Linked DNA regions of Homo sapiens. The protein of the gene in region 2 purifies or fractionates together with the protein of the main gene of each other region. This does not show direct contact. Each region holds a gene or a part of one and is shown on either strand. Other genes may lie near its edges.

Region 1 (4,124 bases), on a different chromosome or scaffold from region 2:
GCTAACATGGCGAAACCCCGTCTCTACTAAAAATACAAAATTAGCCGGGCGTGGTGGTGCATGCCTGTAATCCCAGCTACTCAGGAGGCTGAGGCAGGAGAACTCGGGAGGCGGAGGTGTGGAAGTTGTGGTGAGCTGAGATTGCACCATTGCACTCCAGCCTGGGCAACAAGAGCGAAACTCCATTTCAAAAAAAAAAAAAAAAAAAAAAACAACAACCAAAAAGTTAGCCAGGCGTGGTGGCTCATGCCTGTAATCCCAGCTACTGGGGAGGCTGAGGCAGGAAAATCGCTTGTACCCGGGAGGCGGAGGCAGTGAGCCGAGATCGCACCATTGCAGTCCAGTCTGGGAGACAAGAGCGAAACTCCGTCTCAAAAAAAAAAAAAAAAAAAAAGTCTCTCTATTTACTCTAATGGGGGAGGTGATGTATGTGTCCAGGTACCAGGAGGGAGGTGCAGATAGGAGTTCAGAGAGAATGCCTTTGGGCATGAGTCTCCCTGCCAAGCCTAGGTGTCCTGACTCTGGTCTGCTGTGGCTATCTCACTCACCAGATTTTAAATTCCTCGTGGACAGGGACCGTATCTTATTCGAATTAACTGTCTTCACCCAGTGCCCAGCCTCTTGGGGCCGGGCAAAAATGTGGGACGAATCTCTAAGCAGTGTCCTATCCACCTTCCTTAAAGAAAACTCCACCCCTGTCTTTATAAGCCTGTTTCTTCTGCTTCTGAATGGCCTGCAGCCCCAGGTTCCCAACTGTCAGGCCCCCTTGGGCTGGTCCTATTCCTTCCCTGTGGGTTTGAGGTGTCATCCCTTGGAGCTTGGCCGCCAGCGCCAGCGCCAGCCCACCCTTCCTCCCTCCCACCACATCCCCACCCTTCCTGCTGAGCACTGGGTGGTAGCAGATCAGTCTAGCACTTCCTCTAATGGCTAATGTTTTTGTGGGAGGTTCTGAACTAGGGTTAAAAGACAAAAGCTCTTCCCCCCTCCCCTCCCCCAGTTCTAGTGTTGGTTCTTCTAGTTCTGACGTTCCCGTTGCTGTATCCCTAGATCCCGCCTTTGTTTTAAGCTCCCGAAGAAAGGCTTCCGGAGACTTTGTGACCTCACCCAATTTCCAACATTCCAGATTGTCTTTTCTTTCTTTAAAATCAGTGTTCCCTTCTGAGTCAGCTAGGAGGAGGCCAGAGGGAAACAGTGGGGCTTTCGAAGCTTATCAAAAGCAAACCTTGCTCTTTTGAAAAAGCATTTTCCAACGCAACCTGGGGACAAAGTGGGGTTAAATTTTACACAGATTGCTTACGAGCAAGAGTTAAGTGGCTAACAAGTCATGAAATCTTACGGAGAAGCAGGTAAAGCCAAAATTAAAAACTCCCTCCGAGTCAGCCCATTCTGCGACCCACCTCCTCCCCTTTGCGGCAGGAACTCTACTCCATCGAGGGGCTTTGCTGCAGTGGCACTGCCCACGCATACTCAACTAAAAGACTCAGACCACGCCAGCCATGCCACGAGGTGTGTTTTATTTTCATTATTCATACAAATAATTTTCTATAATATCCCGGGGCAAACCGGAGAATTTGGCAGTCCGATTGGGGGGGGGTCCCTTCAGAGACCCACAGGCCGGTGGCATCGGCGCGGAGTGCCCAGGTTCACAGTGCAGCTTGTGGCTCGTGTCCATCTTGCAGGTGGCTCTTCCTCCACATCACGACTGGGGTCTCGAAGAGGACGGGGGTAGGAAATCCTCCAGGATCTTAGGAAATTTCACTCCGCTTCTCCTGCTCAATGGCTGTGGAGAGCGGGAAGCGGGCGCTGGAGGGGAGCTGCAACCCCCACCCGCAACCGAGGTGCTTCCCGGTGTGGGCGAGGCACCCACGAGGTGTGGGGATTTAGAAGGAAGCTTGGGGCTGGGGAGAAACAAGGCGCTTTGTGAAACTGAAAGAGTGGCCGGGGCCGCCCACACCGGGGACAACGGCGGGGTGGGGGGTGGAGGAGTGGGTTTGCAAGGAAGAGCAGGGTGAGGGGCTGGGCTGGGGCGCGGGAGACCGAGGCACACTCACTCTCTTTGGTCGGCAGGGTGTTCTTCTCCTGCGTCTCCGTTTTCTTCAGCTTGGCCTTATCGAAGCTGGCGATTTCCCCCATGTCTGGTTTGTCTGCCATTTTCTTAAAACAATCCTAGTGGGCAAACCAAGGCGCTTGACCTGGGCCTGGGGGCCAGCGTCCCCTTCCGCGCTCCCCGCCGACGCCTCTCGACGTGGCACTCGCGCCAAGGCGTGCCGAGCAGCCCCAAGGCCGAGGATCTGGGCGCGTCCCGCACCCCTCTTCTCGGTCCCAGGGCGTGGTCGCCGGCCCCTGCGTCCGGTCCGAGAAGGGCGCCTGTCGCGGTTGCGGCGCGCCCGCCCGGTGCACCGGATCCGACCACACCCTGGGTGGGCCCCCCGCCCCGGCGCCGCACTCACCGTGCAGTCTCGTTCCGAGCCCGAGATCCTGGTGCTCCCACTCGCGTTGCTGCAGCAAGAAACAAAAGAGCGGCGCCCGCCCCTAGCCTTATATACGCCGCGCCCCGCCCCGCCCCTCACCCGCCGCAGCAGGGGCGGTGCTGGCACCCGAGGGGCGGGAGCAGCGCGGGCTGCTCCTCGCCCTGCCGCGCCCCCCGCTGGGCTACCAGCCCGGCTGGGCGCGGCTTCTCCCGCGCCGGGCACCCCCAGCTCGCAGTGTGCCCAGCGTGGGGGCTGTAGTCGCCGCCAGAGTGGGCGCCAGGCCCCCGGCTTTGCTTTTGCGGCTACATTTCCCCCTTTCCGGGAATCTGCTGCTCACCCCGCAGAAAGGATATGGGACCGGCGTGGGAGGGTGTGTGGTTTTGTGCGTGTGCAGATATGATGTGTAGCCGTGGGTGTGGATGTGCGGGCGTGCACGCGCACTCTGCAGCAATCCTCGCTCTAGGAGACGCCCCACCCCAGTCGCCCCCAGGCCTCTTGCTTTTGCTCCTCCAGAGTCCCCTTCCCTCCCCCACTTTTCCTCTCCTTAGGGAGGCTGAGTCCTAAGGTGGTCCTGCACTAAAAGAATTCGAGCCGAGGGTCCCGTAGTGGAGCGGGGGGCGGGGGGGTGTAGGGGGAGGGGGGAATAGGTTTCCAGCGCTCTTTGCTCAGGTTGGGGGCGGTTGCCTTCTGGTCAGTCGTCCCCTGTTCCCTGAACTGGGCGGTTCCAGCAGGATCGTTGGCGTGGCGGGTGTTCCTTAAATGCTGTTAGACGCATTGTGTGAAGGGCTGTGGTGGGAACAGGGCGTCCCGAGAAGGCTCGCAGTTTGCCTTTTCTCGTCGAGCTCCTAGAAACACTGTATCAGCGGGTGCGGTTTTCCTCCTTGAAGTTAACCTTGAGGATAATAGAGACCCACATGCCTACAAACGTTCTTGTTTTTCTTATTAACCCATTGTAGGAGTGGTATACTGCAATTATTCACATCTTTCTTAGAAAAGTTGTATTTTCAGCCTGTGCAACACCGTTAGGTAATAAGTTCCATAAATTACCAGCCCCGGAGTTAAGGCTGGTCATTCTTTTATTTGTCCTGACCTTTCCTTTTTTAAGTGTGAAGTATTACCGAGCTCTTTAAAGTGGGATTTGGTGGTGACATCCTAAATTCGGTCCTGATTTTATTTATTTACTTTTTTTGAGACAGGGTCTCACTCTGTCACCCAGGCTGGAGTGCAGTGGTGTGATCACGGCTTATGGCAGCCTGGACTTCCCCGGTTCAAGTGATTCTTCCACCTCAGCCTCCTGAGCAGTTGGGACTGCGGGCGTGCACCACCACTAGCGGCAAATCTTTTGTGTTCTTTTTGTAGAGACGAGATTTCACCATGTTGCCCAGGCTGGTCTCGAACTTCTGGGCTCAAGCCATCTGCCTGCCTTAACCTCCCAAAGTGCTGGGATTACAAGCCTGAGCACCACTCCCTGCTTCTCCCCTCCTGATTTTACCTGCTTTTCTCACGTTCCTTCAGTTTGGAACAGTGGGAAGAGAGCATAGGCTTGTGTGACCTTGGGCAAATCTTTTCCTTAGTTTCTTCATCTATAAAATAGCCTTGGCATAAACTGAGGTGAGATAAAGAAGAGGCATAGAGTGGATACTTTTTCTTTCT
Region 2 (4,909 bases):
CAGTGACATTCAGGTGCGTTGCACTGGTGGCTGTGTGGCTGTGTGGTACGGCCACCAGGAGCCATGTGGGCAAGGACAGCTGTGGGCTGGGCACAGAGCTCTCTCTGCTGGGAGTCAGTCGGTGCTGGGGCGAGGGGAGGCAGAGCTCACAGAGCCCCTCTACAGCTCACCCTGCAGCTCGGCCCTGGCCAGTAAACCCACCATCCCCCTTTCTGCCGCAGGAGGCAGTGGAGAAGGTGACACAGCACATCCACGGCCTGTCTGGGAAGAAGGATGGGCTGGTGCCCATGTTCATCAATACCCACAGTGGCCTCTTCACCCACCTGGGCGTATTCACGCTGGGCGCCAGGGCCGACAGCTACTATGAGTACCTGCTGAAGCAGTGGATCCAGGGCGGGAAGCAGGAGACACAGTGAGGCCCGGCCCGCTGCCCCCAGCTCCCGCGGCTCCCCCGTTCCCGCAGCCCCCCACTCCTGCTGCCCCCAGCTCCCACGGCCCCCGCTCCTGCTGCCCCCCGCCACACTGTGTGTCAGGAAACCGCAGCCGTGCCAGGCCTGGCCCAGGCATTTATGTGGAGGGCGTATTCATTCACCTCTCACCGTGGCCTCTGGGGGGGTGAGGGGGGCATCTTCACTGAGGGCCATGGGCTGTGCAGGGTGGCACCTTCTGTCCGGCAAGGGCCAGGCCTGCTGTACTTGTGTGGGCCCAGGATGTGCCTGTCCCTGGTGCCCCACGGGAGCCGATGCACCGTCCTGGTAGAGTGAGATGACTGCTGGTGTCCACAGGCTGCTGGAAGACTACGTGGAAGCCATCGAGGGTGTCAGAACGCACCTGCTGCGGCACTCCGAGCCCAGTAAGCTCACCTTTGTGGGGGAGCTTGCCCACGGCCGCTTCAGTGCCAAGATGGTGAGTGTGTCTGCGGGGCCTTCCGGCCGCCGCCCCTTTTACCTTGGCTTCCAAGGTGCCTGAGTCATGATGTCAAAAAGAACGAAATCCTGGCCATGGCGCCCACGTGGAGGCCCTGGGTGGACCGTGGCTGCCTGGCCAGGCCTGTCTTGGCAACAGGGCAGTAAGGCCTTGTGTGGCACCTGGGGTGGGCAGGGCTTCCCCAGGGCAGCTCCCTCCCCGTGCCCGGTGTGTAGCAGGTCCTCGGGCGGTGTGTGGGGGCCGGGTTGGAGGGCCTGGTCCAGGCAGCTCCGCTGTTCCATGCCAAGTGCCCTCGCGTGGCCTCCCCTCCCAGGGTACCAGGGCCGAGGCAGCGCTGGGCTCCCACGTTGGCTGCCCGTGCAGCTGCAGGCTGAGGGCAGGGCCTGGGATCTGGGGCTGAAGAGACCCTCTGATTCCAGGACCACCTGGTGTGCTTCCTGCCAGGGACGCTGGCTCTGGGCGTCTACCACGGCCTGCCCGCCAGCCACATGGAGCTGGCCCAGGAGCTCATGGAGACTTGTTACCAGATGAACCGGCAGATGGAGACGGGGCTGAGTCCCGAGATCGTGCACTTCAACCTTTACCCCCAGCCGGGCCGTCGGGACGTGGAGGTCAAGGTGGGCCTGGGCCTGGGTCAGGGTCCATCAGGAGGAGGGTGCTGGCAGGGCTGGCCTTGCCCTGAGCTCTGCTCCGCCCACAGCCAGCAGACAGGCACAACCTGCTGCGGCCAGAGACCGTGGAGAGCCTGTTCTACCTGTACCGCGTCACAGGGGACCGCAAATACCAGGACTGGGGCTGGGAGATTCTGCAGAGCTTCAGCCGATTCACACGGGTGAGCACCTGTCCTCGCCCCGCGTGGTCACGGCCACCGGGCCACAGGCACGGCTGGGCTGTGGGGCTCAGGCTGGCTCCGCTCTTGGTGGTGGCTGTGACCTGGATCCGGGAGGGGCGGGCTTGCCGCAGCCTCGGGGTGGCCACACTGCAGCTTGGGGGCCCTGGCATCCCCATCCCCACTGAGCTTCATGGTTGTGGGACCCAGAGTACTTGGAGGGGCTGGGCACCCCTCATTTTCATTTCTCAGGGCCTGTCTAGGGAGGGTCTCTGCTGTGGGCCCAGCATCCCCCCAGTTTAGGAGGCACACGCACCCATGACTGGGGCACCATCCCCACTGTGGACCAGGCCCTGTTTTAGGTCACGCCCTCCACGCCAGAGTGTCACTTCCTGGCTCTGCTGTGATCTTGGCCTGAGGCCCCCGCTGCCTCCGCTCCCACCGTCTGCCCTGTGCCCTGTGCCCTGTGCGGCAACTGTGAGGCCCCCTGAGCCCAGGTTCTGGGGGAGGCGGTTTCTGTCGTGGTCACTTGAGGGTTGTTGGCATTTCCAGGTGGGCTCCGGTGGAACCACACGGCTCGCCTGGGGGTGGCCATCATCCAGGCGCCCTCCACCCTGAGCTTGCGCTGGGGGCCACATTCACCATGGGGTGGAGAGCGCTTCGGTGATGAGGCTGAGGGGGGTGCAGGGTGCCCCCCGTGTGGTGACGAGGCCCTGGCTGCTGCACAGGTCCCCTCGGGTGGCTATTCTTCCATCAACAATGTCCAGGATCCTCAGAAGCCCGAGCCTAGGGACAAGATGGAGAGCTTCTTCCTGGGGGAGACGCTCAAGTATCTGTTCTTGCTCTTCTCCGATGACCCAAACCTGCTCAGCCTGGATGCCTACGTGTTCAACACCGAAGCCCACCCTCTGCCTATCTGGACCCCTGCCTAGGGTGGATGGCTGCTGGTGTGGGGACTTCGGGTGGGCAGAGGCACCTTGCTGGGTCTGTGGCATTTTCCAAGGGCCCACGTAGCACCGGCAACCGCCAAGTGGCCCAGGCTCTGAACTGGCTCTGGGCTCCTCCTCGTCTCTGCTTTAATCAGGACACCGTGAGGACAAGTGAGGCCGTCAGTCTTGGTGTGATGCGGGGTGGGCTGGGCCGCTGGAGCCTCCGCCTGCTTCCTCCAGAAGACACGAATCATGACTCACGATTGCTGAAGCCTGAGCAGGTCTCTGTGGGCCGACCAGAGGGGGGCTTCGAGGTGGTCCCTGGTACTGGGGTGACCGAGTGGACAGCCCAGGGTGCAGCTCTGCCCGGGCTCGTGAAGCCTCAGATGTCCCCAATCCAAGGGTCTGGAGGGGCTGCCGTGACTCCAGAGGCCTGAGGCTCCAGGGCTGGCTCTGGTGTTTACAAGCTGGACTCAGGGATCCTCCTGGCCGCCCCGCAGGGGGCTTGGAGGGCTGGACGGCAAGTCCGTCTAGCTCACGGGCCCCTCCAGTGGAATGGGTCTTTTCGGTGGAGATAAAAGTTGATTTGCTCTAACCGCGATGTCGCCTGTGTCTTTAGGGATCTCCATGACTGGAAAGTCTGGGCGGACGTTGGGGAGAAGGTATTCTTCAAGTCACGTCTCAGAATTCGGTTTGCTGAGACTGGACTCTAGCTGTCCCCTGCTGGTGGGCAGGGAGAGGCCACGGGGAAGCTCCGTGTCCCTGGCCCCACGGGGCAGATGCTTGGCGGGAGGCATCCTTGCGCCTGCGTTTCACACAGGGCCTGTTTCCCTGCAGGGCTGGCACTGAGGCGCACAGCTGAGGGATACACGGGCCCTCAGGTCAGGCAGCTCCCAGCAGCCTGGCATGGCTATGGCCCCGAGCCCTGGGCTGTGGTGGCAGAGTTGTCCTCATCATCACTCTACTGCTGTCCCTATCCCAGGGCTGACCCTGGGCCTTGGCTGGGTTCCCCCCGACCCTGAACCAGGTGACCTCTTAGGACCACGCCCCCTCGCTCTCCCCTGTGAAAAATCCATCACCTTCACTTCCGGAAGACTCCCCTTCCCTGGGAAGCCAGAGCCGGTGGCGGCACAGGGCAGGGCTACCCGGACCCAGCCCAGGATTGCCAGCTCCGCCCCTCGGGACGTCCGGGCCCCGAGTGTGGGCCTCGGCTCTGCCTGTCCCCACAACCCCCAACATCCCACAGCAGCCACCTGTGTCCCTCTGGGGACAGTGGGCACCCTGGGGCTTCGTCTCCCACTTCATGCTGGGCCCTGATCCTGCACTCCACCCTCTGTGCCTGGAAAGGTGAGAACATCGGCTGTCATGTGACCCTGGCGCCTGCCCCTTGTCACGGTGGGCCCAGCACGGCCCTAGCCTGCCCCTTGTCAGTACCACCCTAGCCCGCCCCTTGTCACGGTGGGCCCAGTGCTGCCCTCCTGGACCAGGTGCCCCATGGCCGGCTGAACGGGCAGGACTAGGGCAGCAGGTGGGGCCTCAACAGCCGGAAAAGGTGCACCTTCTCCATCTCACCCAGACCTCCGAGACTAACGTGCTGGGGGCGTGGTCCCAGAGGGTGGAGGGACAGCAACTGCATGCCCCTTGGGGGCCAAAAGCACTGTCCAGTGGCCTCCCCTGGAGGGGTCGCTGTGTACAGAGGATGTCAGGGAAGGAGTCACCTTGGAGGTGTGGCTGCAGCCTCTGTCTGCTGCGGCTCAGCAGAGCGGGGCTTCCTTGCGGGGCACTGCCCCCCGCTGCCCTAAGGAGCAGACCTGAGCGTTGTGGAGCCTCTACCTTGTGGAGCACATGGCATACCCGGCCTGTGTGGGGTGCGCCGCGTCCCCAGCCGTGTCTCCGAGGGTCCCGCTCCCACAGCCTGCGTGTGGGCCCCACAGACAGGAAGGACGGGACATACATGGCCAGGCCTCCAGGCGTTTATTCAGCCCCTTCCCTCTGCCGCCAGCTGCTTGAGTGAAGCCCCCACTCCATGAGGAGCCTTGAGACCCCTCCAGTCCTGTGCTCAGAGGCTGAGTCTGGGCCCCCCACGCAGAGCTGGCTGCTGCTCACGCCTGGCTGCCTTTACCCACTCGCCGATGATGGTGGCCTCCAGCTTCCGCGCCTCAACCACGGAAGCAGGATCTTCTGGGTGGGAGGCTCTGGGGAGCGGGCACAGAGGGGGCCCGTC
Region 3 (4,913 bases), on a different chromosome or scaffold from region 2:
CATACCAAGTCATGTAAGACTGAGAACTTTTGCTCTAAGATCAGGAAAAAGACAAAGGTGGCCACTTTCAACACCTCTGCTTAACATAGTACAAGAAGTCTTAATCAGAGCCATTAAACAAGAAAAAGAAAACAAAAGGCATTCAAATCAGAAAGGAAGAAGTAATATTATCTCTGTTTGCCGATGACATAATCATATATGTATAAAACCCTAAAAGTGCCACAAAAAAACCTGTTCAAACTAATAAATGAATTCAGTTAAGAGGCAGGATACAAAAATCAACATATAAAATATCAGTCAGGTTTCTGTACACAAACAGCAAACTATCCAAAAAAGGAATTAAAACAAAATCCCATCCCCAATAACAATAAAAGGAATAAAGTATTTAAGAATAAACTTAACCAAAAATGTTAAAGACTTGCACACTGAAAATCATATAGCAACTTATTCTTTCATGATTATTGTTTTGCCATCTTTGCTCAAGAACTAATGGTAGCTTTGCTTGACAATTATATGAGATGCAGGTTTTCACTGTCATCACTTAATTTAACCTACCTCGTCCCATATTAATACATAACTTAGACTCTCCATACCAACCTAGTCATTTGACTACAGTCTCCCATGCACCATCTCCCCATTCCTCCTGCATATTTGGGGTTACTCTTCATAACCTGTTTCATGTCATTCCTCAGCTCTAATCATCAATGCCTCATTTGAACCTTGATGGTCCCGCCTGAGTGGTCTCACTGGTGGAAGACGATTATACAAGGACATGAGTAATTATACTTATCAATAGCAAACAGAAGTTTTTTCAATATTAGCCTCCTCCAGAAACTTTCTGCAAGAGCTGATTTTATTTCTTTTGCCTTCATTCTTTTTATAGCCAATAAGGTCAGTTTAAACAATAGTAGTCTGCAAATCATTTAGCTAATATTAAAATATTTGACAAATTATTTTAGTGGCACCTAAAATACTTCTCTTATGACAAATGAAAATCCAGAGGATGTTAAGGGCCAAAAATAACTGTAGTCACTGTCAATAAACAGACATTCCCCTGTGCTCCCCCCGTCCCCACTTTCCTTGCCCTTCGGTCCAGGCAAGTTTCAAATTCAGAAAAGTCAGTCTGGAATTATTTCATTCTACATTTCAGGACATAAGTGCAAAGGACAAGAGAAATGTATTTCTTTTCACTCAGCAAAGAAAGTCAGTGGTAAATGTGAGTTCAGTTCTTGCTTCTGCCATTTTCTCCTCTGTTCAAAACCAATCAAGGCCTGGATACTTGACCTGCTGGTTGGCAGGGGTCCTCTGTTGAGTGACCTGGTACTTGTCTGAAGATGAATGCAGGCAGGTAGGAGTCAGGGGAAGAGCCCCTCTCTGTGTGTGTGTCCGTGTCTGTGTGTGCATGTGTGTGTGTGTGTATGAATATGAGAGTCCTAAAAATCTCTCTTTTAGATCCAATACTATGTGCTATAAAAGAAGTCATTGAGAACTAACAAAAGTATGTACAGCAATTTATAAAATCTGCCACAATCACCTTTCCCTTGGCAGTTGAAATAAATTAAATCTGTCCCACATCTTATATCTGTCTCTCTGCTTTAATCTCCACATTGATTTTTGACCAAAGAGCCTCAAGACGTGAAATAATCAAATTGCACCAGAGAAAACACAAATGATCTGTTTTGCTTTGCATCTAAGTTTTATATTCAATCTTTCACTTATAAAAATTGAAAAAAGGAATTAAACTGAAACATACAGTCAATGGCTGTCATCTTCTGTCAATGATAACTTTTTACTAATGGATACAAGGTCCAGTTGACATTCTTTCAATCTGTCAACTGAATGTCAAAAAGCCATTTGCAACTGTTCAAAACACATGGACACTAACACTACTGACCATTACATTTAGTCATCTTCATTTCATTGGCAGAGTTTGACGCTGTTTATAATTTACATACAAAGAAATAGTTTTGTGCAAGAAACTTAGTCATCTTTGGACAGATGAATGACATTTTTATTAATTAATAAGAGTTAAATAACCATATCTCCTAAAAATCTGTTACCTTCATTTTCTCTATAATTTAAGATGTTTACAATTACTTTTTCAGCATATAATGGGCAAAATCTTATACGTGTTTGAAAATGATTCTTTATGACACTTTTCTGAATAGAACATTTTTTTCTTGCCTTGGTCTCTAATCTGTTTTCACTGTTTCTTTTTCCTGACCAGTTTCAAAAAATACTTCCATAATGCAAGGGATTTTTAGGTAAGAAGTTCTTTTTGTCTGTGTCTGAAGGAACAGAGTCAACATTTAAAATGAGGAGTCTCTGCTAATTTTTCCTCCCCCAAATATTTCACCAACCACTCATCATTTTCATTAAATTCTAAGTCCAATGTATGTCTCACCACAGTTCCTAGAGGAACAAGGGAGGCTTGATGTGGTCCAAGGTGATTGTGTATGAAAAGATGTTATTCCCTGAAAATGCTCTCCTTATTATACACAGAGCTATAGTGGAAGCTTCTGTTTATACAAGACCTTTTCTTCTTCATTTTCAACACAGGAAGAAATATCAGTTTGCAATATGAGCAAAGTCTATAAAGGGACAGCCAAAGCCTAGCAAGCGTTGGCTCTACAAGTCTAACATAAGTCAAAGGTAAATTAGCTGGCTGAAAGCATGTGGAAGGGAGAAGGGAAGGAAGAAAAGAAAAGGGAATGGAACAGAGTGAAAGAAGGAAGGAAGGGAAGGAAAGATGGAAGAGAGTGAGGGAGAAAGGGAGGGAGGGAACTGTAATACAGGCCTCTACACAGAACTCTATATGGACCTCTATATTTGTACTTCTGTAAATAAAAAAAAAATCACTTTTTCTCACAATCATACAAAGTGGATCTAGGTTTTGTGGGGGCTGGAATCTTACACAATTTAAGGATTCATTGTGACAAAAGAGACAAATGCCTAATACACAAATAGTGCAGTGCTTTGGAAGGGGCCTGCTCAAGTGGGAGGAAGGAAGGAAGGAAGGAAGGAAGGAAGGAAGGAAGGAAGGAAGGGAGGGAGGGAGGGAGGGAAGGGAGGGGAGGGGAGGGGAGGGAAGGGAAGGGAGGGGAGAGAAGGGAAGGGAGGGGAGGGGAGAGAAAGGAGGGGAGGGGAGGGGAGAGACAGGAGGGGAGGGGAGGGGAGGGGGGGGAGGGAAGGGGAGGGAGATGGGGAGGGGGAGGGCAGGGGAGGGGGAAGGTAGGGGAGGGAAGGAAGGGGAGGGGAGGAGGGGAGGGGAGGGAGGAAGGAAAGGAAGAAGGGAGAACAAAGTGAAAGGTAAAAATAAATTATTTTCTCTTCCGTGTCCCGACAGTGAGGAAGCTGGCCCAGAGGCAGAGCTGGGAGAGCCTGGGATGGCCTTCCTCTCTCTCAACTGTAATGCAGGCCTCTACACAGACCTCTATATGGGCCTCTCTATATTAGCACTTCTGTAAGTGAAAGAAATTACTTTTTCTCATACTCATGCAAAGTGGATCTAGGTTTTGCAGGTCCTGAAACACAATGAAAGGCTTCATTGTGACAAAAAAAAGACAAATGCCTAATATACAAATAGTGTGGTGCCTTGGAGGAGGCCTTGGAGGAGGTGGAAGCCCCAAAGGCCAATTTCACCAGCACAAAGATTATACTCAGTAATGGTCACCAAAGATCTAAGTCAGTGGTTCTTATAGTATGTTTGGGGGTCCCTGAGGATCCCTGTGTCCCTTTTGGGGATCTGCAAGGTCAAACCTATTTTCCTAGTAATATTAAGATGCAACATCAGTCTGTTTCTGCATCCACATCTGAAAAAGACTGAGAGAAAAAAAGGCTCCTGTCTGGCAAACTGGCAACCGCATTCTCAAACACCTGCTGAAATGCACTCAACGCAGCCCTGCTTCAGCCATATCAACCTAGCACTGTCTTGTATTGCTGGGGTATGTGGGGATTCTAACACCTTATCACCACCATCAAAAATATTCATGTAATTGGGAAGATAGGAGTTCTACAGCTGAAACCTGAAGGCTGGTAATACCATATGTTTTTCAGCCCTTTACGAATTTCTTTTTTAAGCTTCAGGATGGTGGCAGATAAGAAAATTGGAAAGATTTTTATTGCTGTATCTGATTGATGGATTCACAAGATAAAGAAACCCTCAATACTAGAATAATGGCCAACTCACCTAAATTCAGCCATTTAAAAAAATGCTGAATATGCGCATTAAATGAACATGTTTACCATAAATAAAAACAGAGACCAGCCCACGGGGCTGGCTTTTTCCATGTTTGATACCAGAAGATGTCTGGTGCTCACTCACCCTCGGCTACAGTCAATCTCATCACGAAGGTTTCGTTTTCTCCTGCGCTGGCCTGCAAGTAGCAGCGGTAAAGCCCCGAGTCTGAGACTGTGACATCGGGGATGACGATGACGCTCCACCTTCCGTGGCTGCAGTTGCTCACTATTTGTCTTGGGAACTTGGAGGTGAAATTTCTGCCATGGACCAAGTTGCAGTAAGTTAAGAGGTCGATCTGACGGGGCTGGATCTTTTCCCACCTCACTGCCTGCACAGGCCACGTCATCTGAGGCTGACAAGTGAGTGTGACATTCTTTCCAGGTTCCGAAACAATGTGGCTATTTGATGGCACAGCTGCCTCAAAACTATCTGAAAAGAAGAAGCAAATGATTAGATACAGGTTGTCAAATTTTGGGACACCCAACTGGAAGATACTTAATCATAAAAATAATTGGTGATGTTACCTAACACAGTTCTTCCGTTGTGAATGACCTCTTTATACTACTTTTTTTTTTTTTTTCCTGAGACGGAGTCTTGCTCTGTCACCCAGACTAGAGTGCAGTGGTGTGATCTCGGCTCAATGCAACCTCCACCTCCCAGGTTCACGCCATTC
Region 4 (4,913 bases), on a different chromosome or scaffold from region 2:
TACCACCGCTGCCTCCAGAGCGTGCTTGAGGGCCTCGGCTCCCGAACCCAGCTGGCCATGCTACTCTTTGAACAGGAGCAGGGCAACAGCACCTGACCCCACCCTGTCCCCGTGGGCCGTGGCATGGCCACACCCCACCCCACTTCTCCCCCAAAACCAGAGCCACCTGCCAGCCTCGCTGGGCAGGGCTGGCCGTAGCCAGACCCCAAGCTGGCCCACTGGTCCCCTCTCTGGCTCTGTGGGTCCCTGGGCTCTGGACAAGCACTGGGGGACGTGCCCCCAGAGCCACCCACTTCTCATCCCAAACCCAGTTTCCCTGCCCCCTGACGCTGCTGATTCGGGCTGTGGCCTCCACGTATTTATGCAGTACAGTCTGCCTGACGCCAGCCCTGCCTCTGGGCCCTGGGGGCTGGGCTGTAGAAGAGTTGTTGGGGAAGGAGGGAGCTGAGGAGGGGGCATCTCCCAACTTCTCCCTTTTGGACCCTGCCGAAGCTCCCTGCCTTTAATAAACTGGCCAAGTGTGGACTTGTGATTCAGAGGTTTTGAAAAGGTAGGCAGGCGTGGGGGAGGGAGGACTGGCTGAGCACCACAGGCTCCCCTGCCCCTGCTGGGGCCTGCCTTTCCTTTCACCCGGGACCAAGTCATGCATGTGCCCAGCCTCACCCCGGCCCCCAGTGCGTGCTTGGTCACACATACACACAGAGAATTCTTTATGCCTCTTTATTCCCAATCTCGTCAGCACTTTATAAAATCAGACTGGAGGGAGAGAGGACTGAGAAGGCTCCCTTCCCACCCTCCAAGCTCAGCCGAAGTCTGGAAGGTCTCCTGCCCCCTCCCTATAGAAGGGACTCTAGGGGTGGGGCTGGTGCAGGGGGAACTGGGAGCTGGGCCAGGCCTGCTGGGCCATCCTCTCCCCCTGCCAAGAGGGGAGCTGGGCCTGGAGAGGGGCAGGAAGTAGGACCAGCCCAGCACTCCTGAGTCCTGGGGCTCTCCCTATCCTGCTGACATTGGGGCTGGGACCCTGGCTGTCCCTAAATCACCCACCCCTGTAGCCCTACCCACCTTCTACATCTGTATCCCCTCCCCCCACCCGGCTTTCCCTAAATATTTACAAATGTACAGAGGGCTCCCCCTCCCCGGCTGGGATGGGCTCTATCCTCCCCCTCCCTCTCCTTCCTTCCCTTCCTCTCCGTGAGGGCCCATGGCCTGGTCTCCAGCCCTCCCGGGGCACCAGCCTGGGGATAAGGGGTGTGGACAAGAAGGACCTTTGTGCAAAGCAGCTGACATCAGGGCAGGGGAGGATGAGAGCAGGAACTGAGTCCTGGCCCTCCCAGTGAGCACCGCCCCCAGGCCTCTCCCAGGAGCAGGAGAATGTGCTGGGGATCCCAGGAGGGGTCCCAGACTCCTGGGTCCTTTCAGTCACAGCACCGTCCTAGCAAGCAAAATCTTCAAAGAGACCTCCTGGGGGACCGTGGGGGTGGTGGTGATTGGGGAGCAGACTGCTGACCCCCCCACCCTCCACTCGGCCCCGGCTCGGGCAGGGACTCTGCAGGAGAAAGAAAAGAGAGAGTGGGACCGGGAGAGCTCAAGTGGTGCCCCCAGGGCTCACACCGCCAGCCTTTCCTTGTCACCTCGGGCAGAGGCTCCAGGGCCCCCTCCACAGGCTGGTTCAGAAACAATGGATGTATTCAGTCCTGGGGAGGTGTGGCTGCATGCTGCAGGCATTTAGAGCTTGTCCTCACCTGTTCCTTCAGCTCCTGAAGCCCCAAAGTGGAGATGCCCCCAGTGGAGGTCCGCAGGGGGGTCTTGGGACGCCTCCATACCCGCTTCAGTCGATCCCAGGACACCTTGGGGTTCAGGGTCGGGGACAGCAGTGGGCTCAGGAAATTTGGTTGAGGAGAAGCGTGAGCCTTACCATGCCCAGCTGCCCACAGGACTTACTGCCACAGCAAACTCCCAGTAGGACACCCTCCTCCTCCTCACCCATCCCCTTCTCCTGACTCTGAGCCCTCAGGCCTGCCAGCCAGTCAGGGGACCCTGGCAGAGAACCCTGAACCTGACTTTCCAGCCAGGCCAGCTCCACCAGGCACCCCGCACTGCCCCCTTCTGCTTTGCCCACGGCCCCCACTCCCACCCTGCCTTCTCCAGGGCCCTTGCCTCATAGATGTAGTCGAGGATCTCCAGCAACGTGAGGATGCTGGCCCCAATGAACAGGCCCATCTGTCCCCCGAGGTCTCCTGGGAAGCAGGAGAGCAGTGTCAGAGGGAGCGGCCGGGCCGATCCACCCCCACACAAGCTGGGGGCAGGGACACCAGTCTCACCCAGCAGGGCTGACAGGCCATAGGCTGCTCGCTGCTCCATGGCTTCAGAGGTCAGGGCCTCAAAGAAGACATCTAGGACCAGGAAGTTCTCCCTGTGGAGACAGGAAGCAGGGTATCCGTGTGGGCCTCTCTTCCTGAGAAGGCTGGCAGGGGCATCCTGGATCCAGCAGATCCTGATCAGAGATCACTACATGGGGAAGTCAGTGACTACCCCCCGGACTCCCCAAGGCTGTGAGGGGAGGCAGTCCCGGATGTGTGTTAGCTTCATCTTTTGAGGGGTAGCAAAGGGCCTGGGAGAGCAAAACACAACTCCTGGACCTGAAGGAAACACTCCTCCCTCCTCTAAAGCAGCCAGTGGTGTTGCCTTTGCCTCCTCCTTACGCCTCTGCGGACCCTTCAGTGACCCCTGTTGCCCGTCAGTCCACTCCACAATGCCCCTTCTCGGTGTCCTGGGCAGCCGGTGGCCTGTCCCCGGCACCTTCCTCCCCAGCCGCCGTCTTTTCTGCTTCCTCCACACAGCTGCCTATGGCTCAGGCTCCCCGCCACACCACCCCACCGCCCCACGTCCTGTCACTGGACGCCTCCCCATTGCCTCCTCTCTCAGACCCCAAACCCAGGGCCCTCAGAGGCCGGCTCACGCCTCCCCAGCTTCACTCCCCGACTGGGGCCTGAGAATCAGTCCTACATGATCAAACGTGGGCTCATTGACAAATTGTGGCATGAGTTTTGTGTCATAATCATCTGTCCCCACAGAACCCAGCACTGAGCCTGGCACCCAGACCACGCTCCACAAGTGTAGACTGGCTGGAGGGGACCAGACCCAAGCCTCAGGGCGGTCCCTCCTGCCTCCCCCTGCAGGGTACTGTGTTCCTCTCCTGTCTCATCCTGTCCCTCTCCCTCCGTGCAGGGAAGAAAGATGCATAAGCAAAGCACTCTGAAATGTGGCATATGTGTAATGACAGAGATCTGTACGGGTGCTGGGAACTCAGATGAAAGGTGTTTGGACCTGGAAGCACTTCCCTGGAGGTGGAGACACTGAACGTGACTTGAGCAATGAGTGGGGCTACTTAGAAGAGAAGGGCTGTGGCCAGGCAAGGTGGCTCACACCTGTAATCCCAGCACTTTGGGAGACCAAGGACGGCAGATCACTTGAGGTCAGGAGTTTAAGACCAGCCTGGCCAACATGGTGAAACCCCATCTCTACTAAAAAGACAAAAATTAGCTGGGTATGGCTGTGGGTGCCTATAATCCCAGCTATTTGGGAGGCTGAGGGAGAAGAATCGCTTGAACCTGGGAGGTCGAGGTTGCAGTGAGCCAAGATTGTGCCACTGCACTCCAGCCTGGGCGACAGAGCAAGACTCTGTCTCAAAAAAAAAAAAAAAAAAGAAGGAGAAGAATAGAGCTATGAAGGGCATTCCCGGTAGAAGACTCATCATAGAGATGCGGCCCACTCCCTGCCTCCACCATGCCCAGCGCCTGTTGAGGGCAGCCTCCACCACACACACACACGCACACAGACCCACACAGACATAGACACATTCTCTCACACACATACCCATTCACAGATACATACACTCATAAGTGTGCATGCACACACACATCACACACTCACACACCCACAAGACACACATACATGCCCCCCACACAGACACACACACACATGCATGTACACACCCACATACACCCCACACACATACACACCCACACCCACATACACACAAACACATACACACATACACTCACACACACGTACACACAGAGTCACACAGCCACCCCCCACACACACGTACACACAGAGTCACACAGCCACCCCCCACACACACACACACATACCGTATGTAGGTCTCGTTGCGGTTGTACTTCCTCGCCAGGTACCGGGCTGAGCCCCTGTTGGGGATCCTGACCATGGAGATCTCTTTCCCATAGCGTGTCAGGTTGCAGGGGGTGGGGCAGAAGCACGGGCCCTCAGGGCCCCCACCCAGGGAGTCTGCAACACAGAGGTAGCAGCTACAGTGGGAGTTGGAGAAGGGTGGTCCAGTGGCCCACCAGCTGCAGAGAGGAGGCCCAGGGGCCGTCCTGAGGCAGGCACACCCACACTGAGGGCCTTTACTGGCCAGCCCCAGTGCTTCCTAGAGGGGACTGGCTGCAGGTCCCCGCCTGAACCAGCTTCAGACTGCTCCAGAGAGCAGATATAAGCAGAACCCCCCAGCACCCTCCCAACCCCCTGGGACTGGGGGGGGGTCCTCGTGGCCCAGAGGGAGAACACAGCCCATCCACCAGAGCTAATCAACTATGTGAGGCCTCAGACACACAAGGAGGTGTGGAGAGGATGCTGGGATGCATGCATGGATGGATGGATGGATGGATGGATGGATGGATGGATGGATGGATGGCAGATGGCCAGATCGACGGATGGGCGAACAGAAGAACAAATAGACCGACAAGCTTCCCAGGATCAATGTGCTGGGCTTTCTCTGCCTGCCCCTTCAGATCCACTCTCCACTCTTCAACCTTGCTCTGCACCCTATGAGGCTGATCTCCCCCAAATGCATCAACTAAACTCCCTTGTCCTCTGGCTTTGGGTTCAGTTTG

The links. Proteins that work in one complex are often made in the same cells at the same time.
Region 1: the proteins of MAN1B1 (region 2) and TMSB10 purify together in Homo sapiens (co-immunoprecipitation; one large-scale study listed by IntAct). This does not show direct contact.
Region 3: the proteins of MAN1B1 (region 2) and CD226 purify together in Homo sapiens (co-immunoprecipitation; one large-scale study listed by IntAct). This does not show direct contact.
Region 4: the proteins of MAN1B1 (region 2) and ASIC4 purify together in Homo sapiens (co-immunoprecipitation; one large-scale study listed by IntAct). This does not show direct contact.

What each region holds. Positions count from the first base shown.
Region 1 is NC_000002.12:84,904,045-84,908,168, reverse strand, and holds TMSB10 (thymosin beta-10), read right to left. Parts: upstream 2,514-4,124; 5' UTR 2,451-2,513; intron 2,167-2,450; 5' UTR 2,152-2,166; coding exon 2,052-2,151; intron 1,781-2,051; coding exon 1,746-1,780; 3' UTR 1,498-1,745; downstream 1-1,497. UniProt on the Homo sapiens protein: Plays an important role in the organization of the cytoskeleton. Binds to and sequesters actin monomers (G actin) and therefore inhibits actin polymerization.
Region 2 is NC_000009.12:137,105,904-137,110,812, forward strand, and holds the end of MAN1B1 (endoplasmic reticulum mannosyl-oligosaccharide 1,2-alpha-mannosidase), read left to right. Parts: intron 1-221; coding exon 222-412; intron 413-785; coding exon 786-906; intron 907-1,346; coding exon 1,347-1,544; intron 1,545-1,627; coding exon 1,628-1,759; coding exon of another isoform or gene 1,760-2,059; exon of another isoform or gene 2,060-2,475; intron 2,476-2,484; coding exon 2,485-2,688; 3' UTR 2,689-3,280; downstream 3,281-4,909. Other genes in the region: DPP7 (dipeptidyl peptidase 2 isoform 1 precursor), read right to left, coding at 4,745-4,880. UniProt on the Homo sapiens protein: Involved in glycoprotein quality control targeting of misfolded glycoproteins for degradation.
Region 3 is NC_000018.10:69,891,377-69,896,289, forward strand, and holds part of CD226 (CD226 antigen isoform a precursor), read right to left. Parts: intron 4,670-4,913; coding exon 4,325-4,669; intron 1-4,324.
Region 4 is NC_000002.12:219,534,566-219,539,478, reverse strand, and holds the end of ASIC4 (acid-sensing ion channel 4), read right to left. Parts: exon of another isoform or gene 4,309-4,913; coding exon 4,155-4,308; intron 2,414-4,154; coding exon 2,322-2,413; intron 2,238-2,321; coding exon 2,158-2,237; intron 1,848-2,157; coding exon 1,743-1,847; intron 1,547-1,742; coding exon 1,433-1,546; 3' UTR 707-1,432; downstream 1-706. Other genes in the region: CHPF (chondroitin sulfate synthase 2), read left to right, coding at 1-96. UniProt on the Homo sapiens protein: Does not exhibit measurable stand-alone pH-gated sodium channel activity but may form pH-gated heterotrimeric sodium channels. Its activity could also depend on alternative gating mechanisms.